Regions from separate parts of the Homo sapiens genome. Here region 2 is linked to region 1. Evidence: fine-mapped expression QTL. A gene starts in region 1. The other region holds a variant in brackets. All regions are shown on one strand. Distances are from middle to middle.

Evidence for each region.
Region 2: its variant is fine-mapped to the expression of SUPT6H in whole blood (TOPMed, PIP above 0.99). The same link has a PIP of 0.9 or more in blood mononuclear cells.

Annotation. Positions count from the first base shown.
Region 1 is chr17:28,659,800-28,664,067 of GRCh38, reverse strand. It overlaps SUPT6H (SPT6 homolog, histone chaperone and transcription elongation factor), which reads right to left and starts at 1,863. Exons shown (of 37, transcript NM_003170.5): 1 at 1,726-1,863. SDF2 (stromal cell derived factor 2) reads left to right here and starts at 2,162. Exons shown (of 3, transcript NM_006923.4): 1 at 2,162-2,342. The coding sequence starts at 2,192. RefSeq lists enhancers at 1,073-1,747, 1,845-1,914, 1,276-2,475.
Region 2 is chr17:28,818,839-28,823,106 of GRCh38, reverse strand. All of the region lies in intron 1 of FAM222B (family with sequence similarity 222 member B), which reads left to right. Among named protein-coding and RNA genes, the nearest start is that of FAM222B, 22 kb to the left of the region's middle. RefSeq lists enhancers at 169-668, 669-1,170. The variant A/T (reference allele first, on the strand shown) is at 2,141.

The DNA of each region.
Region 1 (4,268 bases):
GGAATATGAGAACAAAGTATCCATTGGATTTGGCAACATAGAAGTCACTGGTGACCTTGATAAGAGCAACTTCAATGGAGTGGGCAAAGTAGATGTGGTGGCACTTGATTACTAGAAGCTGCCTCAGGAGGACTGCTTGAGCTCAGGAGTTCCAGGTGGCAGTGAGCTATGATGGGGCCACTGCACTCCAACCTGGGCAACAGAGCAAGACCCTGTCTCCACAAAAAAAAAAAAAAAAATGGAGTGGGCAGAAGAGAAGCCAGATTGGTATAAAATGAAGAGTGAATGAAAGTTGAGAAAGCTGAGTTGGTACAGGTAGAAATCTATGAATGGAAATTTAAAAAATTGGCATGGTAATTGGAGAGGGATGTGAAGGATACCAGAACATAATTTGTATGCTGATGGGAACAGTTTCAGGGAGAGACAGGATTTGGTGACTGATTTTATTGGGAAATAGTGGACAGGAAGGAAGACAAGGATTACAGGCAGGACTGATGGTAGTGCCATTTATTAAGGTCAAGAATATAGAATCAGGGCAAACGTATTTGCCTACAAAGATCATGTTTCCACCACACTAGGTAGGCTTTCAGAGGAAGAACTGTAAAATTTGACTAAGCCTCTCCAGACGGTACCACTTTCTGATGTAATTAATCTCCTGATGAAGTTAAAACCTCCTAGAGTTGCAAGGCTATGCTAATCCAATCTAGCAGCCACACAAGCCAAGTGAATAAAAATGTACTTGTACTGGTGAAAGGGACATTACTCGTAAAAAAGGGCTCTAAATTCACAGCTGATGGAAGAGCAGTTATGTTTCTGTAATCAAAACACTGAAGACTTACAAACTGGTAACTTCCAGATAAACAGTGGAACCAGACATTTTTCCGAAGAAATTAATCAAATTCAATATTGTTTACACTCCCTAATGCTCATTAATGATGTAGCTTCATACACCCTTGTTACTTTTGATATTACAGTGAATTTCCACGGAAGTATTTTCAGAGATCTTAGCCCTCTGAAATAAGTATCAGTTCTTGCAACAACCCAGGAAAATTAACTTCTCCAGCTGGTTCAAAGGAGTGCCTGAGGAGAAAGGTAGAAACTAGAAGATGGAGTTTTGACTTAATAACTAATTTTGATGTTCATGATAGGCCTCTGGCAAACGTTTGAGGAAATGAATCTATAGAGAATGGACGGGCTTTAGGACTTCTACAAGACCTTCGATCTTTAGAAAGGGATGAAGGATGCAACCATCTACAAAAAGTTCTATTTGTATTATTCAGCAATATGTAAAGAGCTGGAATTTGGCATCGCCCTCTAGCCTGATGGCCGAGCTGCTGAAAGCTCCACAGGATTCATATCCCCAGAACAAACAACTCGATCACCTGATCCTGGCTCAGAAGCCCCAGGTCCCTTCCATCCCCAATCCTTTTGCGTGGCCCAGTTTTAAAAACCTGCGGAGAGAAGGACGGGATGCCAGGAAGCCTGTTGATTCAACGTGCCACCCGATTCACGGGTTCCGGGTGTCACTGGGCTGGGAAAAGCTTTCGGACTCTGAGCAACTACAGCGCTTTCCTCCCCCTTCCCCCCATAGAGCAGGGAAGGCCAGGCTCCCCCTTCTTCCCGCATACGGCTCCCCACTGCCTCTTCCCTTACGTGACCAGGCCCTAGGAGCCCGGTTCCCCACCTGACTCCTGCGAGAAACACGCTCTCCAGTCGGAACTTTACCTGTCTGAAGCCCGCCGCTCCTCCAGTGCGCTAAGCCCCCACCGAGGAAAATGGAGTCGTCGAACCGAGACTGGGAAAAGATAGTACGGACCCACCGCACGGCCCCTCCGCCGCCACCGCCGCCGCTGCTGCGTCAACGTGCTACGTCATTTCCGGCTCCCTGTCACCGGGAGTGGGCGGGCCATTTCTTGTTCTCTCTCCCGCTCTCGGAAGCTTTCGTCTCGTGGGTGCGAAAGGTAACCGAAGCGGCTCAGGAAGGCAGCTGTCACTGAGCCCCTGGAACAGAGCGAGAGTATCGTAAGTAACCAGGCTCAGCCGGTTTCTCAGGCCGCTCTAGTCAAATAAACCATAAAGATCAGACTCGGGCTTCTTCACTTCCTTCTCTCCGTGGTTTCGCCATTAGCTTCCGGTTCCGGGGAGGGGCCGAGTTTTCTTCGAAGATTTGGGGCTCCGCGATACAGTTAGGATGGCTGTAGTACCTCTGCTGTTGTTGGGGGGTTTGTGGAGCGCTGTGGGAGCGTCCAGCCTGGGTGTCGTTACTTGCGGCTCCGTGGTGAAGCTACTCAATACGCGCCACAACGTCCGACTGCACTCACACGACGTGCGCTATGGGTCAGGTAATGCTGGGGACCGGGCTCGGGTGGGCTAGGGAGGACTCGGAGGCTCTGGAGGGGCGGGGCCTATAGAATATCTGACAGTGTGGTCTGGGAAAGTTAGGGGTTCCCTGGGAAGGTTCCTCAGGTCTAGAGAGTCGGAGAACTGAATTGTTCTAAGGCATCTTAATCGCAACACCACCTAATATTTGGTGAGCTACAGGCCAGGCACGTTACCTATGTCCTTTTTCCGATTATTAACATTGTTGTAAGGTGGACAGTATTGTTATCCTCATTTCACAGATGAGGAAACAGACGCAGAGAAATTAAATCGTTTATTCAAAGCCTTGCAGTTAGCAAATGACAAAGTCGGGGTTCTATCCAAATCTATCCAGGTTCAAAGCCTGCTTTAGAGACAAGAAAATTACAGTAAGTGCTGTGTCTGAAATTTTAAAGTTACAGTAAGTACTGTCTGTGAAACTTTAAACTCCAAGAGCTCACTCGTTGACTACAACCCTTTGTCTTCCAGCTCTTCTGCATCTTACACTTGCTCCTCAGTTTCCATCTTTGGCCCCCTTCTACCCAAACCTTAACCTCCTTCTTGTAAGAAACTTGGAGCAGTGACAGGAATTGCAGAGAAAACTGCTTTTTTTTTTTTTTTTTTTTAGCGTTTGAAATTAAAATGTTTAGTAATAAATTATTTGTGGATTCATTCAGCATAGGTCTTAATGAGTTCCTACTACATGGCTAGAATTGTACTACATACAGGAGATTCGGTGGTGATAATCAGTCAAGAAAATTACAATATAATAAAAACAGACTAAAAAAAGAAAGTCTTATCTGCCTGAAAAAAAAAGATAAAGTTAAAAAAAAAGAATGAAGGTCAGCTAGTGAGATGTGAGAGGCATCTAAGATAGCTGGTAGATTTTTGTCTTGAATGACTGATGATGCTGTTTGCTGAGGGAGGAAAGAGTTCTGTCAGGTGGGCTAGTCTGGTTCATGATTCCCAAAACCCATCTGATCAGTCAGACTAGGCAAGGACATGAGTTATCATCACTGCGATGTCTTAATAATTCTAGCACCCATTCAGTGAACACCTACCATGTTGTCAGGCTTATTTTTTACTTTGTTTTGGTTTCCTACTTTGGATCTACTGAATTAGAGTGGAGGTGGACAGAGGCTTGGCAGTAGCAATCTGTAGGTTTAAAAAGCTCTTCAGGTGGTTCTGATGGACAGCCAGATTTGGGAACCAGGTTCAGTCCGGAGCTCAGAAAAGGGATCTGTGCTGAGCCTGAGATACAACATTAAATATAACATCTTGTACAGACTGTGGTTGAAGATGTCAGGGTTGTAGATGAAATTGCCCAGAATGAACTGTGATTCTCTATCTGGGATTAATTTGAATAACTGGAGAAACTTGTTAAAAATACAAATGCTTTTGTCCTGACCCTCAACAATTGTTTAAGAACTACAGGTAGCCCTCTCCGTCTCCCTCTCTTGTCTCTTCTCTCTTTCCACGGTCTCCCTCTGTTGCCGAGGCTGGACTGTACTGCCGTGATCTCGGCTCGCTGCAACCTCCCTGCCTGGGGCTCCCGTGATTCTCCTGCCACGGCCTGCCGAGTGCCTGGGATTGCAGGCACACGCCGCCATGCCTGACTGGTTTTCGTATTTTTGGTGGAGACGGGGTTTCGCCGTGTTGGCTGGGCTGGTCTCCAGCTCCTGACCTCGAGTGATCTGCCTGCCTCAGCCTCCCGAGGTGCTGGGATTGCAGATGGAGTCTTGCTCACTCAGTGCTCAGTGTTGCCCAGGCTGGAGTGCAGTGGTGTGATCTTGGCTCACTACAACTTCCACCTCCCAGCCGCCTGCCTTGGCCTCCCAAAGTGCTAAGAGTACAGCCTCTGCCCGGCCGCCACCCCGTCTAGGAAGTGAGGAGCGTCTCTGCCTGGCCGC
Region 2 (4,268 bases), 160 kb before region 1:
TAAGTACTTACCTGTTTGTATTCCAGTTGAATATGTTTTTTTTTTCCCCCCAAGATGGAGTCTCAGTCTCTTGCCCAGGCTGGAGTGCAGTGGCGTGATCTTGGCTCACTGCAACCTCTGCCCCGAGTTCAAGTGATTCTCCTGCCTCAGCCTCCTGAGTAGCTGGGACTACCTGCGCATGGAAGCACGCCTGGCTAATTCTATATTCATATATGTGTGTGTGTATATATATATATGTGTGTATATATATATATATATATATATATATATATATTTTTTTTTTTTTTTTTTTTTTTTTTTTTTTGAGATGGAGTCTTGCTCTATCGCCCAGGCTGGAGTGCAGTGGCGTGATCTCAGCTCAGTGCAATCTCCACCTCCTGGGTTTTAAGCAGTTCTCTCTGCCTCAGTCTCCCAGGTGGCTGGGATTACAGGCGCCTGCCACCATGCCCGGCTAATTTTGTATTATTATTATTATTTTTTGTGGTGGAGTTTCGCTCTTGTTGCCCAGGCTGGAGTGCAATGGTGCAATCTCGGCTCTTTCCAACCTCCGCCTCCCGGGTTCAAGCGATTCTCCTACTTCAGTCTCCCAAAAGTGCTGGGATTACAGGCTTATGCCACTGCGCCCAGCTTAATTTTTGTATTTTTAGTAGAGACGGGGTTTCACCATGTTGGCCAGGCTGGTCTTGAACTTCTGACCTCAGGTGATCCACCTGCCTTCGGCCTCCCAAAGTGCTGGGATTACAGGCGTGAGCCACTGTGCTGCCTGGCCTTTTTAAAAAATACTTTTAGGCCGGGCGTGGTGGCTCATGCCTGTAATCCCGCACTTTGGGAGGCCGAGGTGGGTGGATCACGAGGTCAAGAGATCGAGACCATCCTGGCCAGTATGGTGAAACCCCGTCTGTACTAAAAATATACAAATTAGCTGGGTGTGGTGGCGCGTGCCCGTAGTCCCAGCTACTTGGGAGACTGAGGCAGGAGAATCGCTTGAACCCAGGTGGGGGAGGTTGCAGTGAGCCGAGATCGCACCATTGCTGGGATTATAGGCGTGAGCCACTGCACCCAGCCTGACTATGTATTTTTGTTGAATTAGTATCTTTCAGTGTTTTTGTGCCATTATTTTATTTTATTTGTTTATTTATTTTGAGACGGACTCTTGCTCTGTCGCCCAGGCTGGAGTGCAATGGTGCAATCTCGGCTCACTGCAACCTCTGCCCAGCCCCAGGTTGAAGCGATTCTCCTGCCTCAGCCTCCTGAGTAGCTGGGATTACAGGCATGCGCCACCACGCCCAGCTAATTTTTGTATTTTTAGTAGAGATGGGGTTTCACCATGTTGGCCAGGCTGATCTCCAACTCCTGACCTCATGTGATCCACCTGCCTCAGCCTCCCAAAGTGCTGGTATTACAGGCATGAGCCACCTCTCACCCGGCCCTGTACGATTATTTTATATGGACTCCTATTTCCAAAAACCTGCTTTAACTACTTTTATGAGCAATACAGGTAACTGGTGAGCGAATGAGACTTTTTATAAGGGTTAGGCCCTTGGTCTATAAGAAAAGCAGACTGACTTGACCTTGTTCTTAAAGTACATCAGTTTTCTCAGCTGTCAAATGAGGATAACAGGACCATTTTGGCTTGTTGGGTGGTTGTGATGCATGACTACTAATGAAAATAATTGTAAAACACTTTTGCAAGTTAAAGTGTGATATAAATGCTAAATAATAGTTCTTTATTGGGATGTTGTGAAAATAAGCAACATGCTTTTTATTGAGAGGCCTTAAATTCCTTTTGAGGAGGCAATATATTTTTATAAGTACTATTAGATCACTTTAGAATGTTCATATTATTAGAGTTTTGGCCAGGCGCAGTGGCTTACACCTGTAATCCCGCACTTTGGGAGGCCGAGGTGGGTGGATCACGAGGTCAAGAGATCGAGACCATCCTGGCCAATATGGTGAAACCCCGTTTGTACTAAAAATATAAAAATTAGCTGGGTGTGGTGGCGCGTGCCTGTAGTCCCAGCTACTTGGGAGACTGAGGCAGGAGAATCGCTTGAACCCAGGTGGGGGAGGTTGCAGTGAGCCGAGATTGCACTGTTGCACTCCAGCCTGGCAACAGAGCGAGAGTCCATCTCAAAAAAAA[A/T]AAAATAAAATAAAAAGAGTTTTACCAGACTGGGTGCAGTGGCTCACTCCTGTAATCCCAGCACTTTGGAGGCTGAGGCAGGTGGATCATTTAAGGTCGTCAGGAGTTTGAAACCAGCCTGGCCAACATGGTGAAAACCCATCTCTACTAAAAATATTTTAAAAAATTAGCTGGGCGTGGTGGCAGGCGCCTGTAATTCCCGCTACTCGGGAGGCCAAGGCACGAGAATTGCTTGAACCCAGGAGGCAGAGGTTGCAGTTATCCGAGATCTTGCCACTGCACTCCAGCCTGGGTGACAGAGCGAGACTTCGCCTCAAAAAAAAAAAAAAAGTTTTACCATTTTTGCTTTTTGGTTCAGATGAGGAATGAATTCCACCTTATGGTACTTGCATTGCTGAATGTTTAAAGGCCTGATGGGAGTGACTTATTGTGTCTATATTTATAGCATCACAGCCAATCAATAGAAACACTCACACACAAAAGACACTGAAAAAACATTTTAACTTGCTATAGGTAACACCTTAAAGACATTTTAATGCAGGATTAGGTGATTGTTGCAGTTAGGCTTTGAAGAGTGACATGGTACCATTTTAGACAAAACTAACACTCCTTGTTCCATACCAGAGTCTAAATATAGAATCAGTGGCATCATTACCTGTAATGTACTTAGGAACTACATTGAAATTTGAATCTGTTGAACTAAATTTTTCTCAGCCTTTTAAGTGACATTAACAATAGAGGAAAATTGGGATGTTGTCTAAAAGCCAAAAAGGGAAAACTGAAATGGTTATGGGATAGTCTGCTGACGTGCTGGGAACTTTACCCTGACACCTCACCTGGGATCGTATATATTGTTTTTAGTATAGGGACCTGTGTGTTGCTAATTTTAGAACAAAGTAACATGAAGTTTTTTTAGCTTTATGCAGGTTGGACTGGAATCTTTTTTTCTGGAATTTGAGTTCTTTCACAATCCATTTACCTTTTTGTATCAAGGACAAGTGAAAGGCTTAGGTTTCTTTTCCTCTTTGATGGGAAGACTGTACTTGCTTTTGCTGGACTCAGGCATTATCTGCTTTTGCATTTGCATTTGGTGACTGCTAAAAGGGTCCTTGAATGACATGCTTTCACAGCAAAGACAGTTGAGTAATTTTATTTTCTTAGAGACGTTTTATTTCTGTGGTTGTAGTAAGACTCCCTGTTATTTGCTTTCATCATCAGCTTTGTTCATTCTAGGCTTAGGGATTGGCTTCAACTGTTTTACATTCATAGGCAAAGGTTCATTTTATATTCATATTTTAGTTCTCTTGGATTTAATTTGTAGCTTATATGTATCCATTATATTGAATAGTTTCCTTCCTAGATTAGGTATTTCATAAAACTTCTAAATATTTTTAGGAATGTATTACTTATGCTTGACATCTTTATCATTATTTTTTTCATTCAAAATAGCCCAAGTTTCTCTGGAAGCTTGCAGTTGGCAGTACTATCAAGACAAAATGCCTTTAGGACTGTATGGAGAAGGCACTTTCCACCACTACCTAACAAAATGGAATATATATATAATTTTTGACTTTATGTATTTCTTCTGTGATTTACTATCTCATATTCTTTGAATATTTTCCCCTTTGGTTATTTGTCTTCCTCTTATTTAGTTATAAGAGTTCTTTGTATATTGTGGCATTCAACTCTTTTTTATGTGATGTTAGTATTCCTTAAGGCTATGAATAAGAAGTGAGAAGGGAGGCTATTGCATTGAATGCTAATCCCAGATGGTGTTTGGTTAAATTGTTTTATTGTTTGCCTTGATTATTTGAGCAATGGTAAGCTTCTTTTGTCTCTTCCTTTCCAAAGATGCATAGAAAAGCTCCTTCTGTCTGAAGTAAAGTGTTGGCTCTGTGTTGGTTATAATTTGCTTTTTCTGGCTTGCACAGCCTTCTTTTTGTTTTCTGTCTTCTGACAGATTATAGGATTGTGGGGAAACAGCGTCCAGGGCTTTTTCAGGAACCGTGCCATTTTATCTACAGGAGAAGCCATTGGCTTTGGCACTAGAAGGGAATTGGCTGTGCATTTAAAGATGCCAAATCATGCTCGATTCACAAGTTTGCTGTCTCATTTTGTCTATGTGTGT